Linked DNA regions of Homo sapiens. The protein of the gene in region 2 purifies or fractionates together with the protein of the main gene of each other region. This does not show direct contact. Each region holds a gene or a part of one and is shown on either strand. Other genes may lie near its edges.

Evidence for each region.
Region 1: the proteins of TRIM45 (region 2) and ZBTB40 purify together in Homo sapiens (affinity purification with mass spectrometry; one large-scale study listed by BioGRID and IntAct). This does not show direct contact.

What each region holds. Positions count from the first base shown.
Region 1 is NC_000001.11:22,510,552-22,514,369, reverse strand, and holds part of ZBTB40 (zinc finger and BTB domain-containing protein 40), read right to left. Parts: intron 3,192-3,818; coding exon 3,023-3,191; intron 2,695-3,022; coding exon 2,236-2,694; intron 1,447-2,235; coding exon 1,240-1,446; intron 1-1,239. UniProt on the Homo sapiens protein: May be involved in transcriptional regulation.
Region 2 is NC_000001.11:117,115,242-117,119,059, reverse strand, and holds part of TRIM45 (E3 ubiquitin-protein ligase TRIM45), read left to right. Parts: intron 1-292; coding exon 293-1,026; intron 1,027-2,314; coding exon 2,315-2,444; intron 2,445-3,370; coding exon 3,371-3,485; intron 3,486-3,818. UniProt on the Homo sapiens protein: E3 ubiquitin-protein ligase that plays a role in the regulation of inflammatory response.

The DNA.
Region 1 (3,818 bases), about 95 Mb from region 2:
AAAAGCCATTGAAGAATTTGGAGCAGAGAAGTGACCTGATAGGGTTTATTTATTTTTTAAGTATCAAGAGAAATGGTGAAAGCAAGACCAGCTTTGAGGCTACTGTGACAGTCCACGTCAAACAATGGTTACCTTATAATTTATAAAGAAATGCTCTAAACAATAGGTAGGCTGCTCCAAAAAGCCTTCCCTGACAATGTACCTCCTCCTCCCCTCCAACTGGACTAGAGACCCCTTCTCCATCCTTCCTCATCACGCTGGTGTTATTCCACATTATACCGCTGACAATCTGCATTGTAACGGGCGCTACACTCCCCTCTCCCTGCCCCCTTCAGGCCACAAGCTATGGGCACACAGGAATCCCAGCTCAGCCACTCGGCATCTGCCACTGTCTGATCCACGGTAGGTGCTTAGTCAGGGTCCTTCTCATGCTTGAACTCGACTTCAAAGCTCAAATAATTTTATGTAAATTCTCTATAACTTTTAATGGCAAAAACCACAATGACTTTTCCACAAGACCTAATATAAAGTCATAGGAGGTTAGCCAGTCTCTTTCAGAAGCTCTCCCAGTAAGCAGTTTACGTCTGTGCACAGAGCTATTCCCAGTCGTCTGTTTGCCTAGAGGTTGTGCATTGTTTTTTAATTTTATTTATTATTATTATTATTTTTGAGACGGAGTCTCACTCTGTTGCCCAGGCTGGAGTGCAGTGGCACAATCTCAGCTCACTGCAAGTTCCACCTCCCAGGTTCACACCATTCTCCTGCCTCAGCCTCCCGAGTAGCTGAGACTCCAGGTGCCCGCCACCACGCCTGGCTAATTTTTTGTATTTTTTAGTACAGATGGGGTTTCACCATGTTAGCCAGGATGGTCTCAATCTCCTGACCTTGTGATCCGCCTGCCTCAGCCTTATTTTTTTTTTGATACTTAACTTTTGTGGGTACACAGTAGGTGTATATATTCACAAGGTACATGTGATGTTGTGCTGCAGGCATGCAATATGAAATAACTGCATCAGGGAGAATGAGAGATCCATCCCCTCCAGCATTTATCCTCTGTGTAATAAATAATCCAAATTACACTGTATTTAAAATGTACAATTAAGTTATTATTGACTTTAGTCACCCTGTTGTGCTATCAAATTGTTTTGTTTTTGAGATATATATCACACCTAATCCAAATGGGGTTTAGGCAGTTCGCAGTGAAAGTCTGCAGGAGAAATGAACTGTGCCCCGCCTTACCTTCTGAGTGCTTCTTCTTGGTGTGATAGGCCAGGGCGGAGGCCTGGGTGAAGGTCATGAGGCAGTGCTTGCACATGAACGGGCGGTCCCCGGTGTGAAGGCGAAGGTGGTTCTTCAGGGTGGAATTGGCTGCAAACTTCGCCCCACACTCTTCACAGGAGAAAGGCTTCTCATCGAAGTGCTCTGTCAGCTTATGGTACTGCATGCCTAGGGAAGCCAAGCACACCAGAGGCCAGAAGAGATGCTACTAATCAGTGTTAGGAATCTAGCACAGGATACCAAGAGCACTGTCTCAGCCCAGGCCTCCAGAGGAAGCACAGCATGAAGCCCAGGGTGCCAGGCCACGCTGGTACCCACTGCACACAGCCACGCTGCTCTCTACCCACCAACTGGCATCCCCAAAGTCACCTGGCCTTACTCCTGGATGGAGCCGGTGGAAAGTAATGCTGGGCTTATCTTCCCCATTCCCTTCTCTCTCTTAAATAGGACCCTGCCACCCAGAACTAGGGAAACTCAACTTGCTTTTATATTTCATTAGGTTTATCCAAATTCTAGGACAAGGGAAACCATTCTGACTGTACATCCCATGATTTCCATGACTCTTGTTTGTTACCAAGAAACAAGTGGCACATGGAAACATGAGCCAGGTATTAAGTAGCTGGTTATCACTGTAAACAGTAAGAGCTGTAAGTTATTGTGTGCTCACTCTGTTACAGGCAGTGCACTGGTGTTTAGCTCTGTTACCTTAAGTCTTCATAACAATGCAACAGAGTAAGTGGTATCAGGGTGCTGCTTTAATAGATTTGGGGAAATCAAAGCTCGGGGGCTGATTCCAAAGCCCATGCTCTTAAAATATTACCCTGCCTCTGTAGGAACCTGCTCTATTTTCTAAGCCCACCCACAGCCCTCACTGCACACAACTAAGGGAAAGGCCTGAAATCCAAGCTATAAAACCCACAATTATCATCCTCTGTTCCTTTGCCTTCTTGAACGTACCTGAGGCATGGGCAAATTCTCTGCCACAGAGGTCACATGTCACTGGAAGCCTCTTCTTCTTCTTCTTGGGGGCATCGGGCTCTCCACCTGCACCATGGGCCTCCAGCTGATGTTTGTCCAGCTCTTTCTTTGAATCCTTGGTCTCACTGCACTCCTTACACTGCACCTGTTTGCTCTTAGCCACCCGGCAGCGCTTCATGTGCACCTTTAGGCGGCAGTAGAAATGGAAGCTTTTGTCGCAGGCCTTACAGATGAAGCTCTTCTTGGCAGGGTCTGGGGAGGCTGAAGCCTCTTTCTCTTGCTGTCCTGGCAAGGAACCAGTCTCTCCTTGATCATTCTGTTCCCCAGGCTGGCTGTCTTCTTTGGCTGCCTTTTCATCTTCTTTGTTGTTGGCTTCAAGGTGAAATTTATTACTCACCTTCCACGTTTCCTTCTCTCCATCTTCCTTAGTAAGGACACCTGCATAAAAGAGACATCTCGTGGCTCTGCGAACTCTCTGTTTCTATTTTGCTTTATAACGTTTCTAACACACTTCTTACAGGAGACTAGAGACTACTTGAGATCCTCAAAAACACTCTGAAGTAATATCATTGTCCTCCTTACTTTCCAATAAACACAAAGAACATTTTCCCCCTATGTCTCATGACTTTTTTAGGTATTCAGAGCATATAAAATGAATACGTAACTTAAGGTTGTGATAAACTATGATATGAAATGCTGTCTCTTTCTTCAAGAAACAACCTGGTGTGCTGATAGGAACCCCCTTCCCACCTGGCCCGTTCCTTACCAATGTATGCCAACTCCTGCATGACAGGCTGCAGGCCTGGAAAAGATTTGTGGACACTGCACAGGAGGTGGCATATTTCAATGGCCGGGACTGATTTTTCCATGGCTCTGCTCAGCACTGCTCTCAGGGAAGCTTCAGGGCTGGCTGTCTCAGAGGGAATGCTCAGAATCTAAATGAATACCAGGAGACAAAGGTGTGGGGTTAATCTCAGCAGATTTTCCCCATGGTTTTCAACCTAAAAAAAAAAAAAAAAAGCTAATCCCAGGAAGGCACTGCTCCATTTATAAGCAGTTTATACATCGCCTTGTGATAAATGTAGTGGACAGCTCTGTTTGCCAAAGAACAGGAAAACTAACAAAACAGAAAAAAAGAAGCATGTATCCAGATAAATGTGCAAATACAAAGAAGATACATGCAGGGAAGCATAAAGCATTTTCTATAAGAAATAGCTTATCAGAAACTAGGAGTCTCCCAAAGACCTTTTCTGGATCTTAATACTAAAAGCTTGAAAAGCTATAGGATTTGGTCGTCGGTGTGTCTGTCTTGAAAATCAGAATAAGTTTTCATAATATATAATTGTCTCAATGTCTGGAAGTAATTCTGCATGATCAGTGGCTTCATATTTTTAGATACTTAGATGTACCCATTTAAACGTCATTTTCTTTCACAAAGAAACTCAGCGTTTTAAAGAAGGTTCAAATAGAAGCTTTAAAGAGTCCAAGAATATTATTTCAAAGCCGTCGTCCTCTTTCAGAATGTTAGAGCTATCAGCAGAAAGAGTCGGTACACTGAGAAA
Region 2 (3,818 bases):
AAAGTTCTAGCATGCAGTCATAGTCTTGCAACCTTCTGCATAGGCATGTAGCCAGCCAGAGCCCTAGTCTGTTCACACGTTATTCTATACAACAGCTCTTTCAGGTAGGTATTGTCCCCACTGTACAGATGAGAAACTGGAATCAGAGAGGTTCATGCAATTAGAGATTAGAGCAAGGAATTGAAATCAGGTTTGTTTAACTTCAGATCCTGTGCTCCTAAAATCTCTCTGCCCAACTATTCCCAACAGAATTATCCCCTTATTTCCTGTTACTGATTCTGTTTGCCCCTAGGCGGCAGAAGAAAACGACTTACCACACCATGGTGGACCTAAAAGACTTGAAAGGCTACAGCCGGATTGGGAAGCCCATCCTGTGTCCTGTTCACCCTGCAGAGGAACTGAGGCTGTTCTGTGAGTTCTGTGACCGGCCCGTGTGCCAGGATTGTGTGGTGGGGGAGCATCGGGAACACCCCTGTGACTTCACCAGCAATGTCATCCACAAGCATGGGGACTCTGTGTGGGAGCTCCTCAAAGGTACTCAGCCCCACGTGGAGGCCCTGGAGGAAGCCCTGGCTCAGATCCACATAATAAACAGTGCCCTCCAGAAGCGAGTGGAGGCAGTGGCAGCTGATGTCCGGACATTCTCGGAGGGCTACATTAAGGCCATTGAGGAGCATCGGGACAAGCTGCTGAAGCAGCTGGAAGACATACGGGCCCAGAAGGAAAATTCCCTGCAGCTGCAGAAGGCCCAGCTGGAACAGTTACTGGCAGACATGCGGACTGGAGTGGAGTTCACCGAGCACTTGCTGACCAGCGGCTCAGACTTGGAGATCCTCATCACCAAGAGGGTGGTGGTAGAACGGCTCAGGAAGCTGAACAAAGTTCAATATAGCACCCGTCCTGGAGTAAATGATAAGATACGCTTCTGTCCTCAGGAGAAAGCAGGCCAGTGCCGTGGCTATGAAATTTATGGTACGATTAATACCAAAGAGGTTGATCCAGCCAAATGTGTCCTACAAGGAGAAGGTAGGAAGGCATTTCCCATTGACATTGAGAGGGCAGTGGACAGGGAGGTGGTGTGTGAAGATTGGTGGCTTGTTCTGCTAGGAAGCATGCCCTACTGACCAGGTTACCAAAGGTGGGGAGATAAACTGATCTGAAAGACAGTGACCCCCACCTTTGCCCTTTCTGGTTTGTTCTGGCTAGGGTACAGTTAATACAGGAGTGAGGCTTGACCCTTTTCCAGTTCAGAGAAGTAATAATGGCTGAGAAACACACAGATCATGTTTTGTTTCTATCAGATGGCAGAACAGAGACAGTGCCCGTTGGAGGTAACAGCAGTGACTAGGGCCAGGTGAAATTCTGCCTGCTCAGAGAGGAGCATGGCAGGCCCTGGATTCCTAGATCAAGTTCTGAAGGGAGTTTCAGAGGAATGAGGAAGATGAGATTACGGTTTCCTTTCCTTTAGGCCCTTTTTGGTTCACATCAACTTTACTGGCATTTAAAAGGATATGGTAGGTGTTTCATTTAATTGGGGGAAAAAATGGTTTTTTTTAACGAGTGTTCCCTTTCTAATGGAAGCATATTATTAAAACATATGTTTCACAGGTCAGTAGGTCAGTCCTGATAGGAAGATTGCATCTTAATGACACAGGCATTCTTAACTGTTTGGAAGCCATAGATCTCTTTGAGAATGTTCTCTCCTACAGAAACACCCAGTAACTTGTGCATACAATTCCAGATTTTTAGACTCTTCATAAGCCTTTCCATAGACCTCATAGTAGTTCATGAACCTCAGGTTAAGAAACCCTGTTTCATCTGAATGCTGGAGTAGGGGCTGTAGCTACTGGATATCCCCCCAGTACCTTGGCATGAGCTACCAAGTTGCAGAGGATCTCAAAACATGGAGGGTCGTGAGGCTGGTCAGCTGTACTCCCTGCCTAGCCCAGCAGGATCTGGAGCTTAGGGAGGGTGGTTTTGGGGTTACTATCCTCTCTCACAGGGTCTAGAGGTTTTCTTTAAATACCTCGGTCAGTCGTGAGTATTTTTAAAGCATAGGACCTTCAGTCCTAGGACTGAAGGTAAGGTCCAGGATCCTGTGTGATCCAAAGCAGCTGCTAGCTGAGAGAACCAGGCCAACCAGGAAGGACTCCCAAGAGGCGTACTCTGGGAGGCAGAAGGGGAAGAGAAAACAAAGGGACCCAGGGTGGTTACAGTAAAGTACAACCCTTTGTTCTGAAGAGAAAAAGCAAGATGGAGATGTAGTCACTGCAGTTTACATTCGAGGTGAGGACCGAGTGTTTATCTTTTTCAGACCTCCACAGAGCCCGGGAGAAACAGACGGCCTCTTTCACCCTGCTTTGTAAGGATGCCGCAGGAGAAATCATGGGCAGGGGAGGAGACAACGTTCAAGTTGCCGTTGTCCCTAAAGATAAGAAAGACAGGTTTGTATGACACAATTAGGTGTCATGGATAACAGGCAGTGAGAAAACTGGAAACATGAGGTCCTTTAAGATATTGGAGCTGGGCACAGTGGCTCATGCCTGTAATCCCAGCACTTTGGGAAGTGGAGGCAGGAGGATCGCTTAAGCCCAAGAGTTCAAGACCAGCCTGGGCAACATAGGGACACCCTGTCTCTACAAAATTAAAAAAAAAAAAATTAGCCGGGAGTGGAGGCATATGCCTATAATCCCAGCTATTCAGGAGGCTGAGATGGGAGGATCCCTTGAGCCCAGGAGGTCGAGGTTGCAGTGAGCTGTGATTGTGCCAGTGCACTCCAGCCTGGGCAACAGAGCAAGACCCCAGGTCCAAAAAAAAAAAAAAGATATTGGAGTGTAACTCACTAGTTACGTCTTACCTCCCCATAATACTATGAAACGTTACGTGACCAAATGTGTTTTCTTGTGTGGGTTTTGTATTCAATTCTCTCTCAAAGCTATGGTCTGCCCCTCAGATTGTTTTCATCTCAAGCTTTAGAATAAGTTGAAAAATATTCTGTGTTAGACTGAATGGTACCCTTTTCAAAATTCAGTCTCCCTTTGGTACTAAATTATGCCTGGAGCATGTTTATATTTCTCTGGAATTGTAGAATGGAGGAGGGACAACAGAGCAAGAGGGTTCAACAGAAGCCTGTTGAAAAGGACACAATAATATATTCAAGGAATTTGTCTGAATATCAGACTAAATTGGAATTTATGCTGTTTACCTTCTGTTGTAAAATTAACTTCTGAAGCAAATGGAAGAAGCATCCTGTTTGGGTATATTTAACATTAATACTGAATGGGATGGTGTAGAGTTTACATTCTGAAATAGTAGCAACTGAAGCCAGCTTGTGGAAGTGAGTGGTGTTTTGACTCTTATCTCCATTCAGCCCAGTCAGAACAATGGTCCAGGATAACAAGGATGGGACATACTACATTTCCTACACCCCCAAGGAACCTGGCGTCTATACTGTGTGGGTCTGCATCAAAGAACAGCATGTGCAGGTAAGACTGGTGCACGTGCTTCCCTGAGCTCCCTGGATTCTACTGTCTTAGGATCTGGAGACATTTCACATAGGATCAGCTATACAGAGAGATTGAATAGAATCCCCATGTCTTCTTCTTCACTTTAGAAACAGCCCAGATTTTGCTACTCTTATTCTTCCTGGAGGATGCTGTTGACCATAAGAACCCTGTATCCCTGTGTCACCTCCAGGCAGTTATGCTTATAGCTTATCATTCTCCCAGTTGGTTTCTTAGGATTCTTAATATGGAGAAGATGTCTTGATCACAGGGGGTGATCTGCCAGCAGACAACCATGCATATTCAAAAAATATA